Linked DNA regions of Homo sapiens: region 1 is linked to region 2. Evidence: fine-mapped expression QTL. Tissue or cell type: whole blood. Region 2 holds a variant in brackets; the other region holds the start of a gene. All regions are shown on one strand. Distances are between the middles of the regions. Region 1 holds the start of FAM30A (family with sequence similarity 30 member A). Region 2 has its middle 11 kb from the start of MIR4539.

Region 1 (5,204 bases), 71 kb after region 2:
AATGTACCAACTGTGCCGTCCTTGGGGGTATATGTCCTCGGGGGGATACGGCTCTGTGCCTGCTCCACATCAGGCCCCAGGAGCTGCCAGCAGGTACCAGCCTGCCCTGCCACACAGTGTGCCTGCAGCCTGTCCGGGGATGCCCAGGGAGGTGAGTGCCACCACATATCAGGCCTTTTCTCTTTAAAGTCATTTCTTTGGGGATACATCATCAATGTCTCATATACTGAATGTATGTCTGTATCATTGTGCAATTGCCTGTGTCATCGTTTATTTATCCAACCTGGGTTAATGTCTTTGCTATTATGAACAGTGCTGGACTGAGAATTTTCTAAACACAGCTGTGTGCATTTTCCTCTTCTTGCAATTTAGAATTTTAACTGCTGTTTTCAAGGTACTGTAATGTATTTGTTCTCTTCTTGTTAGGAGACTTGCCAACCCTGTGTGTCTCAGTTCATACCCTCTTCCTTCCCCAGTAGAAGTAACGACCACTGTGTTTATGTGATCATCCTTTTCTTGATTTTCCTTATAGTTTTCCTAGTGGAAAGTTTATCCCTTAAGAAGATAGTTCATTTTGCCGGCTGTAAATTTTATTTAGAAGAAATCACATTGAAAGTATTTTTTGGACTTTCCTTTGTTACTCCAATTACTCAGCATTGTCATGAACTCAACCACAGAGTCACCTGTAACCCTCACTGTTGTCCTTCTGGCTGTCTGGGTTTGCATTTCATGAACCTGCCATCGTTTATTTGCCTGTTTTCCTTCAGATGGCTGTTTGCTTCATTCTCAGTTTGGGGCTATGACAAACATATGTTCTGCACATCTTTGCCCATGAGGCTCTCAGGGAGGGCTCTGGAGCTGGCATTGCCTGCAGGGCTCTGCTTTGTTGCAGGGAGTTCCTGCCAAGGCTTTTCAGAGTGTCTGTGCCCAGCCTGAAGGTACACACTGTACTTTGCCCTTGCATCAGGCACTTTCCTTGTGCTTGCTTCTGTGTGGCTCCACATTCTGGAGAATTTATTCAGATCTGTGCTGCAAATCCATTTCACTGATTCTCTCTTTAGCTGTGTCTACATCAGCTGTTAAGCATCCCATGATGCAGCATTGTGGGCACAGGGCAAACTCTTGAAAGATGACAGTGTAGGATAGCGGCTGCTTCTCCTTCCCTGTGCCCTTCCCACACTGTCCTCCTGGGCTCACTCCCAGCCATCGATCTTGAACACCAGTTTATGGAACTATCTGCACAGGAAAGCAGAAACAGCAAAAGGCCCTGCTCAGGCTCTGCCCGCATCCCCTCTTGCACACCCGCCAAAGCTCTTTCCTTGGGGCCTGTGCAAGCTTCCCAGCTGCTTCTCATTTTCTGTTTACTCTGCTCACTGGCCAGTGGGGTGATGTCTGGGGGGGAGTCTGGTGCGTTTTGGGCATTGATGGCCACCCCTAGGCCCTACTTCCCAGACGCTCCCCCCAGCCCCTCAGCTCCAGAAGTGGAAGCGTTTACAGCAGGGCTTTGGGAATGGGGCTGTGTCACTGTGGGCATAGCAGCTGGTACTACTACAATATCCTCACAGTGACACGAGCCCCCACAAAATCCTCCTGTCCCCGCGGGAGTCACTGAGTCCCCTCTTGCTGTCTCTGGCTAGTTCTCCTGCTGATACTATGATTTCCAGGGGGTTTTTGTCTGAAACTCAGGGTGTGTTGGAGAGGACTCTGAGCCCAGTGCTGTACAGGGGGCTCCTCCTTTGTCCTGGGGGAGTTGCGTGGACCCTGTTTTTGGTCAAGGGAAGTACTTGCTGGTGAAGGAGACCTCCCCTCCTTTCTTTCTCAGGAGCCCCCTCTGATGCCGTTGCCTGGTGTTTCTCAGGGCTGGTGCTGGGGGCTCAGCAGTGTCTGCCCTGTTCCAGGTGGGAATGTGGGTCTGTTCTGTTTCCACGCGGTGTTCTGGGGCCGCCAGTGAGGGGCTCGGGATGTCAGCGGCTGGTCTCTGTCCCTATGGTCTGGGCTCCGGTTCACTGCTCCCCTGCCCTCCAGGTCGGTCACTGACTCAGTTACTATCCAGCGGGCTCCGTGGCTGTTCAGTGGTGGCTGCAGGTCTCTTCCCAGGAGAGGCCTGCGAGAGGGCTGGGCTGTCTGGGAGCCCTGCATTCTCCCATGATGTTGCTGCCTGGATCCCTCGTCTTTACAGGGAGTGCCGAGCCTCCCTGCAGGTGCGGGCAGTGAGAGACACAGGCGGACGTGCATCAGGGTGCTGGAGGCCGATTTCTTTCAGTGCCTTCTGCCTGTGGAAGGGCTGAGCTCCCTGCTTCTGTGCACAGGAGGCTGCCGTGTAACCGGGCAGTGAGGGCAAGGGCCTGCATGGGGAAGACTTGGGTGAGCCTTTGTCCTGGAAATACCAGGGCTGGGTCCAAGAGGGGAGCAGGGTCAGAGTGTCCAGGAGGAAGGTGAGGGCATGGGCAGTGTGGGGGTGGGAGTGCACGGTCAGTGCCATGGCTCAGGGGCCCCAGGAGAGGAAGAGCTCGAGTTGTGGGCAGGAGGAGGCAGGGGGTAGGCACAGAGGGTAGAAACTGAGGCTCTGGCAGCAGAAAAGGGGAGGGCCTGCATGTGCAGGGTTGGCCTGGGAGGGGTGTCTGGAGGGAGAGACAGGGGTCTGGGTGGAGACCAGGGTGTAGGCTGCAGGGATGGGACCCCAGGGTTGTCTGGATGGGCAGGAAGAGCAGCGGGGGAGAAAGGGCTGGAGGCAGGGTTGGGCCTCCCCAGGGTGTGGGGTGCAGGGAGGGGCTGCACAGGCTGTTCCCCTGAAGGAGGGAGGAGGGAGGGAGCACAGAGGTGCTGGGAGCAAATGGAGAGGGAAGTGGCAGCGGCCCGAGTGCCAGGCGGTCCCGGTTTGGGGTTGATCTTTGTGGAACAGCTCCCTGGCCCGTGTGTAAGTGGTCGGGGGAGGCACGGAGGTCTGGAGCTACAAGCGGTGGCAGGAAGGCAGGTCCCAGTCTTGGGGGTCTGGAGCTTATCTTCTTCCTGTGAACTGAGTGTGGGCAGCACCTATGGGCGGTGCCCTGGACCTGTGGTCTGGTGGAGTCCAGGCCTCCCAGGGACAGCAGGGCAGCCAGGGCTAGAGGAGCCTGAGGGTCCAGGTCAGGGTGGCCCTGGGGCCACTGCCTCCACCTTTGACCAGCTCTGCTGTGGGGATCTGGGCATGAGACCCCTTCACCCAGGAGGGGAGCCGCGTGAGTGAGACCCTAAGTCCATACCCCATGGGGGGCTCTGACCCTCCTGCATAGGGCCTGGACAGGGGTGGGTGGGGTGTGCGGGGGGCGGTGGGGAGCCCAGACTCTCCCAGACACAGCCTGCTCTGCTCCAGAATGTGGGCTTGGGCACTGCAGGCTGGCTGGGTCTGGGCTGCCTGGTGTGCCTGTGGTGGCTGCATTCCCACAGCCGGGACTGAGGCCTAGTGAGGACCAGGGAGGAGCCTGAAGGGAGCTCCATGGAGGACCTGCCTCGGATGACACCCCTATCTTAAGAAGGTCATGGTGGGTTCCAGCTGGGAGGAAGGGAAGTGGGCCACCTCCTGGGGGTCTTCCACCCCCACCACCTCAGCCTGGGGCCTCTGTGATTCCTCTCTGCACAGACCCCAAAGTCTGTGCTGCCGCAGGGCAGGAAGGAAGGGCCTGTGGCCTGGTCGAGGTTGGGGCCACAGTGGTGTTCCCTAAGCCCGAGTCTGGTCTCATGGCCCGCCCCGCAGCAGGTCCTGAGTGAGGGACAGAGACCGGGGCGGGGTCTTTGGTCCTGGTGGACTCTGGGGTGGATTCCAGTGGGGAGTCATCAGGGTCGGTGTCCCCCAGGGTACTGGGGTGTCTCTGCTCCTGGAGTCGGCTCTGGATGTGGGGTTTATGCCTGTGCTGCCTGGGGTTGATGCTGGGAGGTGCCAGTGACCCCCGTTTCCCTGAGGGACTCTTGTCGGTGGTAGGGTCAGTTCTGGCCAGGAGCACTGGGACCATAGCAGTAGGATGGGGTCCAGCCCCTTCCATGACCCCCTGGAGCCCTGGTCCCCGTCCTCACCATTCAGTGGGGTTCAGTGGGGACTCCACTGTGCTCTGGCTGCTGGGGGTCGTGTGAGCTGAGCAGGACCTAGGTTCGGGGCGGCTGCTCCCCTCTCTGGCGCGGCCTCCAGCAGGGGCCAGGAGAGAGTTTTGGACACAGTTTTTCTCACGGTGGTCGTTCCAGTTGTACCCACCGTGACTCGGGGCTGTTCAGAATCTGCCCCGGCGCCCTGAGCTCTGGGGCCTCCTGGATGGGGGCTGGGCTTGTGGGCGGCATCTCCTTCGGGGGCTCTGGAGGCTGGGGCTCGCTTTAGTTGTGGGGTGAGCACTGGGAGCCCCAGTTAGCGGAACACCCACAGAGACCGGGGCCTGTACACATTCCGCCCCGGTGTGTGGGGTGGGCCCAGGCCCCTCTGGGCAGGTCAGCTTCAACGGGGAGGGTGCTTGGGTCCTGTTAGTTTTCCTCTGGGTTAATAGGATTCATCTCCTGGCCCCAGATCCTCATAGGCTGCCCCTGTCCCTCCAGCAATGCAGGACATGGCAGGTCACCCTGGAGGGAGGCATGTTCTGGCCTGGGCGTCAGGTGTGGCACCTCAGATCCTCCATGCGTGCTGTGGGCTGAGCAGGACAGCAGACGACCCCGGGCCCCCACCCTGTCTATGGACATTTTTTGCTGCAGCAGCTGTGGGAGCTGACAGTGTTCACAGCCACACCAAGGTCATCATTGTAGTCAAGGCTTTCTAAAAGTTTCATTGTGAGGAAGCCTCCTATTAAACGGCGCCTGGGCCCTGCTTCCTGAGGGTTACTGCTGAGTCCCGGATTTCCCGTAGAGGCGACGAGAGGAGAGCAGAGGGAGGAGGAGGGGGATGAGCTGGGCCCTGCAGAAGGGGGTGCTTGGGTTGGGGTCTGTGGAGTGAAGATCTGGGCTCCTAGGGGCCACCCAGACAACCATCCTCCCTGTTCACACCTTGAGGGTCCCAGCAGGAGCCAGGTGGGGAGACTGTGAGGAGAGGGCCTGTGTCTTGTCTTCCTTGGGCCGTGGGACAGGGTGGAGGTTGAGGGCGTCTTTCCCAGGGGATCACAGAACAGCACCTCTGCTGTGGGGGGGCATCCAGCACGGGGGGCTGGGCTGTGGGGTGCAGGGCAGGAGGGGGCGTGCACGGGAGGGGTGTG
Region 2 (5,204 bases):
TGGCTGAGGGACAGTCATTCTGCCTGTTGGTCCAGCCCACCTCACTGCTGCTTCTCCTAACAGCTTCCTGCCCTACTCAGAGAAAGTCAGGCACGTACCCGAGTTCTCCCGAACACTGAACCCGTCCCCCCGGCCACATGGACATCTCAGGCAGGTCAGAGTCACAAGCCTCAGACTTCTCAGATAAAGTTCTTGGTGAGGGCCCTCTTTCCCCTGCCATTCTGAGGTGGCAGGCAGGGTGAGGGTGAGAAGCAGGCTGGCCACCAAGATCCAACACTTGGAGAGAGCCAGGCTGGGGCGGGCGGGAGGCGAGGGTCACGGGGAGGGGCTGCTGCGGCCCAAGTGACCTGTGAGTCTGCAAGCCGGACTGCCTCGGCAGGGTGGCTCTATGTGAGGCTGCGCTGAGAGCCCATGCCTCAGCTCAGCGAGGCAGAGCTGGGTCCATGGGCCAGGGAGCCGGCCCAGGTCTGCTCTGGGAGTCTGCTGGTTGTTTGGCATCTGCTGGCCCCCAGACTGGGGCTGGCTGGCAGTAGGTGTTTGTTAGAGGTCCGTTCAGTGTCCCTCTCCTTACCAAAGTGTGACTTGGAGACTCAGACAAGGAGTTATGAAGGGCTGCCTGGAGGAGGCGGCTGAGGAATGAGCAGGTGGGTGGGGGTGGAGTGTGCAGGGAAGGGGCTTCTCACCTGTGTTACGGGTGGTGGCTGGGGCTGTGGTTGCCTTGGCGAGGCTGCCCTCTGCTTGGGGTTGTGCAGTGGGCACTGAGGAGGCCTGTGCCTTTGGAGACTCTGAAATCCAAGGAAAAGTGCAGGTGAGGCTGAGGGCAGAGGGCATGGATGTACCAGAGGCTGGGTTGTGGACAGGCAGGTGGGGGGCACAGGCAGCCAAGCAGGAAGAAGGGAGGGGCCGCAGCATGGGGTGGGAGCTTGGCTGTGGGAAGCCCACTAGACAGTCACCTTTGCTGGGCAAGCTGCCTCCGTGCACACTGAGGGAAGGGTCTGGAAGGAAAGTGATCTGGGTATTGGGAGATGGGCCTCAGAGAGAGGGAGCGGAGGGACTGAGATGGGGAGGGTCCGGAGGGGTGGATACAGGGTGAAGGGGGAGGAACGTGCTCTGAGGGGGAGGTGGGGGTTGCCTCACAGCCCAGCCCTTGCTTCTGTCTTTGTGGTCAGGCCCTGAGTGGAAGGTGCTGGGGGTCCTGGGGGGCCCTTCTGGGTGATCTCCGGTGCGACCTACCTGGCCAGCGGAAGATCTCCTTCTTACTCTTGCTGGCGGTGTGCTGGACCACGCATTTGTACTCGCCTTGGCGCCACTGCTGGAGGGGGGTGGAGAGCTGGCTGCTTGTCATGTAGTAGCTGTCCCGTCTTTGTATCTCAGGGAAGGTTCTCTGGGGCTGGCTCTGTGTCCCCATGTACCAGGTGACAGTCACGGACGTTGGGTGGTACCCAGTTATCAAGCATGCCAGGACCACAGGGCTGTTATCCTTTGGGTGTCTGCACCCTGATATGATGGGGAACACATCCGGAGCCTTGGTGGGTGCTGGAAGACAGACACAGTGGGAGTCTGAGGCTGGAGGCTCTGAGGACAAGGGGCAGGGCAGGGCAGAGGACCCTGGCAGCAGGGTGACAGGGAAGGCAGGGAAAAGGGGCCCAGGAGGAGTGCCCAGGGTGAGCGGGGCTGACCAAGTGGCCCGTGAACACGAATGCCCCTGCTGCCGCTCCTGTGTTGTGAGTCAGAATAACCGAGTGGGACCTGTGGCTTTGTGGACCCTGGGCTCTTGTTGCCGAGAGCTCCTGGAAGGGAGGGGTCTTCCCTCCAGAGGCTTTGGTGCCCCTCTGGGCATTCCTGGGACCTCCACCTTCCCTGCTGCCCCCAACCTCTCTGGAACCCACTTCCCTTGGGCCCCTGAGGGGAGGAGGGGCACTCAAGCCTGGGAGCAACGGGCCTAGGGCTGTATGACCCTCCTGCCCAGGCTCCCAGCCACGGGTCCTCAGCTGCCCTGCAGGGGCCATGGGGTCCCTGTGGAGGGCCATGCGTCTGGCCCTCTGAGTGGCTCCGGAGGAGCTGGTGGGATTGGATGCTCCTCTCCCTGATTCCTGGCCCCAGGGGCTCTGCTGCCTGGGATAAACCCATGAGCTGACCTGGCCCCTTGTAAGGGGTGTTACTCATGGACAGCAGGCTGTAGGGTGGCAGGTCCCAGAATGTGTGGCTGCCTGCTGGGCTTGGCTCTCAGCCTCACTTTCCTGGAGACCTGGGTACCCAGGGCAGCTGAGCAAGTGCAGGGTTCTTGCCTGGGTCCCTGGAGGCCCCAGGTGCTCCGTCTTAGTCTAACCTTCTACTCACCCCCTGCCTCCACCCATGTCT[G/T]CCCACCACCACACTGACTATTGCTGCTCAGGTGGGGCCAGGTGTTCCCGTTCTTTGGCCTGGTACGCAAGGTCATCTGGTGTGGCGGTGGCCCCATCCTCCTTCCCTTCTCCCTTGGGGCAGAAACTGTCGCCCTGCTTTCCCAAATTCTGGATGACCCTCCTCTTCTCCCCATTTACATCCTTTATCCTGGGATTTTCTGAGCAGGATTGTCAACCCATTGTCAACCCTCCACATCCTAGGCAGTATTCACGGCCCATCTCAGAATCTTCCACCTGAACAGTGTGTTCCTAATTCCCTTCCTCGAGCCACCTCTTGGACCCCTCTGGGCTGTTTTCATTTTTCCCTGAGGTTCTGGGATGTCAGCCCTGCCAGGCCTCCCTCTACAGCACCACTGGTGAGACACTAGGGATGGGTCTTGTTATGGGTTGAGTTGTGTCTCCAAATAAATGGACGTGTTGAAGCTCTGACCCGTAGGGCCTCAGAATGTGCCCTTCTTTGGAAGCAGAGTTTTGCAGATGCAATCAAGTTAAGATGAGGTCACGCTGGAGGCAGGTGAGCCTCTGACCCAATATGGCTGGTGTCCTTATGCAAAGTGGAAATTTAGACACAGACATGCACGCAGGCAGAATGCCATGTGAAGGTAAAGATGGAGGCGGAGGAGCTGTTTCCAAAAGCCAAGGAACACCAAAGCTTTCCAGCAAACCAACAAAAGCCAGGACAGACACCTGGAACAGATTCTCCCTGCCAACCCAGGGGAGCCAACCCTGCCCACAGCTTGATCTCAGACACCTGGCCTCCAGAAATGAGACAGAATACACTTCTGTTGTTTCAGCCATGCAGTTGTGGTACTTTGTTACAATAGCTCATAAGAAACTAAAACAGATTTTGGCTTTAGAAGTGGTGGCTTAAGAGAAGCAATTAAGACCAATTCGCCTTCTAGTGGAAATAAGACATCAAATACAAAGTTTTAAGAGAAGTGAATGCAGCAGCGGCGGCTGCCTGTCTCTTACCATGTCGGGTGCCTGGTCACTGCGAACCTTGCAAAAGCTTTGGCATGGAATCATTCCTCCAAGTCCATTAACAAGGGCTGGGGCCTGAGCAGCCAGTCGGCCCGGCGGCAGAAGCCACGCATCCCAGCTCCGGGTAGTCCGGGGAGACCCAAAGCCCAGGCCGGGCCTGGCAGCCACCCTCCCAGAGCCTCCACTAGGCCAGTCCTGCTGACGCCGCATCAGTGATTCTGAACAGAATCTGTCCTTCTAAGGTGTCTCCACAGTCCTGTCTTCAGCACTATCTGACTGAGTTTTCTCTTATGCCACCAACTAACATGCTTAACTGAAATAATTCAGGGTAATGATTTATTTATCTGATTTAATTGATACCTAAAACTGTGGAAATGAATTTGGGATAGGGTAATGTGTAGAGGTGAGAAGAGTTTTCAGGTGCATGTTAGAAAAAGCCTAGATTTCCTTGAAGACTATGGTAGAAATTTGGACATTGAAGGTGATCCTGGTGGGGGCTCAGAAAGAAAGAGGAGAGCTATAGAGAAAACTCCTGTCATCTTAGAGAATACATAAATTGTCACAAACAGAATGTTGCTAGAAATGTGAATGTTAAAGATGCCTCTGGTGAGGCCCCAGACAGAAATGAGGAAGATGTTATTGAAAATTGGAGGAAAGGTGACCTTTGTTAGAAAGTGGCAAAGCACTTGGCTGAATTGCATTCTATTTATGGTAAGTAGGACTTACAAGTGATGAACCTGGATTTTAGCTGAGGATATTTCTAAGAAAAGTGTTGAAGGCACAACCTGATTTCTCCTGACTGCTTATAGTAAAAAGTGAGAGAAAGTGTTCAGTAAACAGGACCCACAACTTGAACAGCTGGAAAATTCTCAGCCTGTCCAATAGCATGCTCTGGAAACAAGGCCAAGGATGTGTCTGGGCAACCATTTGTTAAAGAGATTGGAATCATGACTTATGGATCCAATCAACCATCTCAGCAGAAACCAGGAGTAGAGATAAGGTTATTGAGGATATAACTGTGCAGGGCTCTCTTGTCTGATGACTCAAACCCCCAGGAATTTCATGGGAAGCTGACAAGGATTTTGTGAATTGTAAAACAGAAGAAACAATGCCAATTGGATGGAAGGGAAAGAAGACCAGAAAAAATGAAGGAAGGGTGACTTTGAGATCAGAGCCAAAGATGAGGAGGCTGTGGGGGCTCTGGCCACCATGGGCGAAGAGCATGGGGTCACCCCAGTGGGCCTGGAAGATGGAGCACGGACCCAGGAGGATGAGCCTTGAGCCTTAAATCTAATGCAGCTTTCCCTGCTGGGTTTGGGCTTGCTTGGGACCCATGGCTCCTCTCTCCCTTTCTATGTATCCCTTTTAGAATAGGAATGTCCATCCTATGCCTGCCCCATCATTGTACTTTGGAAGCAGATAACTTCTTGTCAAGTTACAAAGGTCCACAGATGGAGAGGAATTTCACCCAGAATGAATCTCACCCTGGGTTTCTCCCACACTTGATGCAGGTGATATTTCGCTGAGATTGTGGACTAAGAGTTGGTGCTGGAAGGGGTCAGCCGTTCTGGAGATGTTGCTATGGGATGCAGGGATTTTGCCTGTGAGAAGGACATGATTATGGGGGGAACGGAGGGCAAACTGTCATGGGTTAAAATGTGTCCCCTGTAAATTAATGTGTCGAAGTCCTAACCCCCAGGACCACAGAATGTGACCTTGTCTGGAAACAGTCTTTGCAGCTGCAATCAAGTTCAGATGAGGTCACCCTGGAGTAGGGCAAGCCTCTGATCCAATATGACTGCTGTCCTCATGAAAAGGGGG

What was found. PIP is the estimated chance that this variant, and not a neighbour inherited with it, causes the effect.
Region 1: FAM30A starts here. The variant in region 2 is fine-mapped to the expression of FAM30A in whole blood (TOPMed, PIP above 0.99).

The regions. Positions count from the first base shown.
Region 1 is chr14:105,915,297-105,920,500 of GRCh38, forward strand. FAM30A (family with sequence similarity 30 member A) reads left to right here and starts at 2,683. Exons shown (of 6, transcript NR_026800.2): 1 at 2,683-3,521. It also overlaps IGH, IGHD2-2 and IGHD1-1.
Region 2 is chr14:105,844,142-105,849,345 of GRCh38, forward strand. It overlaps IGH and IGHD. Among named protein-coding and RNA genes, the nearest start is that of MIR4539, 11 kb to the right of the region's middle. The variant G/T (reference allele first, on the strand shown) is at 2,362.